Regions from separate parts of the Homo sapiens genome. Here region 1 is linked to region 2. Evidence: fine-mapped expression QTL. Tissue or cell type: blood mononuclear cells. Region 2 holds a variant in brackets; the other region holds the start of a gene. All regions are shown on one strand. Distances are from middle to middle. Region 1 holds the start of TRIM32 (tripartite motif containing 32). Region 2 overlaps ASTN2 (astrotactin 2).

What was found. PIP is the estimated chance that this variant, and not a neighbour inherited with it, causes the effect.
Region 1: it holds the start of TRIM32, and the variant in region 2 is the best candidate, but not a certain one, in a credible set for the expression of TRIM32 in blood mononuclear cells (TOPMed, PIP 0.88).

The regions. Positions count from the first base shown.
Region 1 is chr9:116,685,940-116,688,853 of GRCh38, reverse strand. TRIM32 (tripartite motif containing 32) reads right to left here and starts at 1,549. Exons shown (of 2, transcript NM_012210.4): 1 at 1,473-1,549. All of the region lies in intron 16 of ASTN2 (astrotactin 2), which reads left to right. RefSeq lists enhancers at 1,073-1,122, 1,563-1,882 and a silencer at 1,293-1,492.
Region 2 is chr9:116,711,468-116,714,381 of GRCh38, reverse strand. All of the region lies in intron 16 of ASTN2 (astrotactin 2), which reads left to right. Among named protein-coding and RNA genes, the nearest start is that of TRIM32, 26 kb to the right of the region's middle. The variant T/A (reference allele first, on the strand shown) is at 1,589.

The DNA.
Region 1 (2,914 bases), 26 kb after region 2:
TGTCTCCGAGCCCAAACACCTCACTCACAGAGCCACTGCCCCTTCAAGCTGTAATGGATCTTATATAGGATAAATTATTCCACTCATTCCCCTGGAGGTCTCACTTTCTATCTGCTATCGTAGCTTGGGGGTACAGGGAAAAAGGGCTTAGGCAGATGACCTTGAATAGTTCCACTTCTTCTTCCCCAAAGCCTACCACTTTCAGTGGGCCGGGGGACCGGTGGTCAGAATGGAGTTAGTGGCAATACCATACCTGCCTCATGATAACGGATCTTTGTTTAATAAATGAAGAAGATTCTGCCCTTCACAGGGATTACCACACTCCTTCAGGATTATCTGAACTGAAGATTTATCACTTTGTTCCTCAGCACCTGAACTCTGCTCATCTTCATATACTCATCCAGTTTCATACATTACTTTTAGGTCCTTGGGTCCCCTGAACTCCCTCTGTCTCCCATGCAGCGATTTAAGGAAAATCTCTTTAGCAGCCCAAGACACCAATCCACAAATCTACTCAGGGTCCTTTGATTTTATAGCCCAGTTAGGACATCTCCACCCCACGATTCAATCCTCTCCAAACCCTGTCCCCAACCCTCTTACAATTCCAAATTCCAATCTTTGGGGCTGTATATTGCAACCCTCGTCAATTCCTCACTCATATGCCCCAAATCCCTCGGACTCAGATCGTTTAATCCCTATTTCCAAATCTCTGCCACACTCAGCCCCGCACCTCAGTTCAACGCCCCAATTCCTCACCCCAGATTTCTGCTCTCCCTCAATCTGAGCCCCCATCTCCTGCATTCCATCGGGCACTGTGCTGCCCTCATACCCTGCTCCTTCCTCTTATGCACTGAATGTCATGTGCTGCCTTCACACCTCAGCCAGCTCCCTTCTTTCTGCTAACAAGATAGAGTCCCTCAAGAACTCACCCCACCCCCTCAATCTCACCCTCAGCCCACTCCGAAAACCCTTTCTCAATAGCACTTAGGATCGCCCTAGACCTTGCTCCTATCATCTCAGACCCTGTCCTTGCCAGATGCCTAGCGCCCCCAGATTTCCTCAAATCTCATCGGGGCCCCCCAGTTCCTTCATATTTCTGAAATTCTGCACCCAGGTCCCTCCAGGGCCCTGATTCCCTCCCATCTCCCACATGCTACACCCCGTTCCTCCTCAGGGCCCCGACATTACCTCATACCTCCCGAGATGCTGCAACCGCAAATCTCTTCAGAGCCCCTCGCTCCCCTCCCCCAGCTGCATCTCCTCGGATCTCCTCAGCCCCACGAATCCCTCCCGAGCCTGCCCCTCGCAGCCCCACCCCCACCCTAGTCCTGCCCCCCCCAGATCCGGTCCCCACACCCTGCCATTCGGGCGCGGCCGCTGCACGCCGGCACGTTCCCCCGCCTGGCCGCTGAGCCACGGCCCACGACTCCGGCCGCGGTCCCCAGTCCCCAACCCTCCTTCCCGCCCCCTACCTGACCGCCCGCGGCTCCGACGAGTCCACCGCCGGCAGCCCACCCGCCTGCCTCCCTCTGCGCACGCGCCGTTGAGCACCCCTTGCCGGGCGCCAATTCGCAGAGCTCCCTGTCCGTCACTGAGCCCCGCCTCCCCAGCATGCTGGGGCTTGTCGTGCAGCTGGCCCCAAGCGCGCGGGGCAAGGCGGCCCTGCAGGGGTGAGCTTTCCTCTGAGAACCCGGGGCCTTAGCGACACGTAATCCAGTTTTCCGTCTCCTTGGTGCAGATGAAGAAACCGACGCCCATGGGCGAAAGGGACCTGCTCAAGTTCACTCAGTAAGTCAGGAGATAAGCCAGAATGCGTATCTGACTCCAGTCTCAATGTCTACCCCTTCACAAAACGGTAGCCTCCAGGGTAGTCCTCAGCAAAGCGTTGGCACCTTACTGAATCTGTTTTTCCATCTGAGAAATGGGCCAACGGAAAAATCAAACTTCCATTCTGGGGAAGTCGAGAACCGGGACTCCCTAGGAAGGGCAGTGCTTTGGCCTCATGTTCTGTGCTCTGACAGAGAGCTGCACTAGAGACAAGTTTATCCATGAACACATTGCTCTGTAAAGGAATGTTTTGCCTACTCAGCTGGGAGGCCGACAGCAGAGGCAGACTTGGGGAGTACACTCTGCAGCCCCTGTCCCTGCAGACTGAAGGTACCCGGGAACCCAAACCAAGTGTAGTTTTGCTCGGGTGAAGGTGGAGGAATCTTACCAGGTGGGAGGTGATCTGGCCTGAGATTTGAGGGAATCTGGGGCACTAGGCATCTGGCAAGGACGAGGTCTGATACAGGACTGGCTGGCCACGACCTGCAGTCCCTGAAGTAGTTTGGGGCCAATCACCTACTCTCCAAGGTGACTATACTGTACAGCTTAGGAGCACAAAGGAGTTTGAAGTAGGATGGACTTGGATTTGAAATTCCCCTTAGCTATGTGACCCTGCACAATGATAAAACAATAAACAAAAACAATGACTAACATCTTTGAACACTTGCTGTCTGGCTACAGCTGAGGACTTCAGGTGCATAGCTCACTAAATCCTCATAAGGACCTAATGAGATAAGGCAGCTGATGGTTAACCTACACCTGTTGTGTAACCTAGGTGGTTACACAAGGCCACATATACCTAAGTGTTGGAGCCCAAATTTGTACCCAATTCTATCTGAGAACCCACTCTCTTAACCTTGTTTACTCTTTCTCCCCATTTTCTAAATTTCTAATTGAAGTTTGCCATGAAGATAAGCCAAGATTATGGTAGTTTGCACTTAATGATAACTATATTTGAAAAATTGTAATTAGCAGGTAGGGGATAAGGGAGAGGTAATGCCAAATGATTTCTCACTTAGACCAGTTGGGGAGACTTTGCACCCGTTTAAAATTTTTTTTTTTCCTGAAAACCACAGTTATCAGCCCA
Region 2 (2,914 bases):
ATAATGATACAGCCTTTTCTGGTCCTGACTACAGCAGCCTAAGATATATGTCTTCTTCCTGCCAGACTTCCTATGTCATGGCTGTTTCTCCCTGGCTAATCTGTCAGCTTTTGAATTTGAGCTTTTCCTAAACCTGGAGGTGGGAATAGAAGGTGAGAATGTCAGATAGCACAGCCTGGAGCTCAGCAGTAGGGCACATGGGAGCATGTTTGCACAGCTGAACACCAAGCTTATATTGTTCTAGAAGAATGTATATATGTGCGTATATGTGTGTTGGAAGAGAAGGTGACAGAGGAAAGGGCAACAATGATTTACATGTGTTGAGTTCCTATTATGAGTTAGTTAATCACATGATCTCATATTGTCTTCATAACAACCCTGTGAGGTCCAAATTATTATTTCCATCTTCCTAATGTGAAAACTTATCTGCTCAAGGTTACATGGCTAATAAAAGGTAGAGCCAGGATTCCATCCTAGGGCTGTCTGACTTCCAAGTCCTTATGCCATGTACTGAGAATTCACTACATGCCAGGAGATATGCTGGGCATTTCACATGCACAATTTCATTTAATCCCTACAACTTCCTAAAATTGGTATCTTTATGGAAGTAAACTGAGATTTGGGAGTGAGGGGTAAGATATACAACCCAAAGGCACAGAGTTGGCAAATGGTATTCTCTCATGCCTTCTCTTTCTTCTGTCTTTTCATGCTCCGATTCTCTTACCATTTACATTTTACTATTACTTAGCCAAAGTGGGCACTCCCAAAGTTCTCTTTGTGTGGCATTTCTCTTCTCCCTGCAACAATTAGAAGTACTTAGTCAGGAAGAGCGAAAAAAGAGGGAGATTGATCGGCAGGATGTAAGCCTGCATGATGCTGACCAGCAGGCTCTAGACCCTTGTTTCCTAGCAACCCCTTGGCTCTGAGTCAGAGTGCCAGCTCTGAGACGGGCCTTAGAGATCAACTTCACCATTGATACATTGGGTAGGAGCTGGCCTTAGTTGTCTTCATCTGATGTACCAGCCCTAGGCCCCAGGCTTTCCTCTTTAGGGTCCTTTGTCTTTAGGGTCTTCCTTGCTGTTCCCTCCTACTCCACAGATGCCCAGAAAGAAGGCTCCTTTTGGAGATCTTGATTCAATAAGTCTCCGGGGTATGGGGCACCAGAATCATTGAAGTTTACAACTAGAAAGATCCTTAATTTAACAAATATAGATGGTGGAAATGGAGTGCCATGGAGAAGAAAAATAATTGCCCAAAGAGAACCATTAGTTAATAATATTAGGACTCAAACAGGATTAGTACTCTCTCTTTCTTCCCCCATCCAAGGAAGTGTGTTGAGTGGCAATTCAAAAGGCCATGTGTCCAAAGGTCACATGGCTGCTAATAGGCAGAGACAGGATTCCATCTCAGGACTGTCTGACTCCCAAGTCCACATGACATGTACTGAGAATTCATTACATGCCAGGAGGTATGCTGGGCATTTATTATCTCCATTTCCTAACGTGGAAACTCACTTGCTCAAGGTCACATTTTTACGTTCGTAACAGCTTTATTGAGATATATTTCATATAACACACAATGAAAGGTA[T/A]ATTTTTGAGCCTTCTCTTCCAATGGTGACATTGCACCAAAACAAAGTTCGGGTTGAGTCTAGAAAGGAACGCAACTTTCAATTATTTTACAGTTGAGAAGATTCTCTAAGGAAAAGCAAATCAGAGGGAACCACTCCTCCCACCTTTCAACCATACCCCACTTTCTATTGCAGCTAGACTTAATGATTCAGGGATGCAGGTACTAGGAGAAGCAGGAGGTGGCATAACCAGCTGATGCTAATTGTGACCCAGAGTGCTCACATATGTCAACATATGAGCTAAGCTGACCTCTGGTTTTATTCAGCAACAATTATAGTGCCTACTATGTTTCAGGTACTGTGCTAGATGCTATGGATGCAGCAGTAAATTAAATATTGCCTTGCCTTCAGAGAGCTCATTTTAGTCTTGGAAAAAGATATTTAATGAGAAAAATCACCATGAAATATGTAAATGCTAGAGGGAGAAATATAAAGTGTGGCATGAACACCTGGCTCAAAACAGTTAAGGTGGATCCAAAAGGGCATTCCAGAACACTTGAAGAAGGTAAGATTTAGGCCAACACAGGTGGGTATGGAGAAGGTAAATGTTCCAAGATGCAAGAAAAGCATGTACAAAAATGTCCCTGAGATAAGAAAAAAGAAATTGTGGATGGAGCAAAGCTCTAGAGGGGATGGAAGTGGTGGTAAGATAAACCTAGAAAGATAGATGGACAGGAATCAAATCCCACTGGGATGTATAGACCATGTTAAGAAAGTTGTACCTTTGCTAGGAGCACTTAAAGGTCATTTAAAGGTTTTGTATATTATCATTAGCATTTGCATTTTAGAATTTGACTCTGGCTAGTGTGGGATAGGGCTTGACTTGGGATGGGAGGAAGTATATGTGAGATGCTAGATTAGAGTTAGGAGGATCAGTTAGGGAGTTGTAGTAGTGTTTCAAGGAGAAAAATAATAGCTTAAAATTTAGCAGCCATGAGGATTCAGAAAAAAAATTAATGTATGTGAAAAATATTAAGTGGCTAGAATGATGAGAACTTCATGATGGGACAGTAGAAGGTGAAAGGTGAGGAAAATGATTAGACATGGTGCCAAGCTTTCTGACTTAAGGGCCTGAGTGACTGCTGGAGTTCCTTAGGTGAAATAAAAAAGGAGCAGCAGGTATGGTAGAGCCAAGTTCAGTTTTGAATATACTGAGTCTAAGATTCCTAAGGTATATACAACTGGCAATATAAAATGGGCAGCTGGGTATACACCAATCTGGTGATCAAAAAGAAGGTAAGACATGAAAAATACAGTTTGGTATGTAGCTGCATACATGATTGAAGT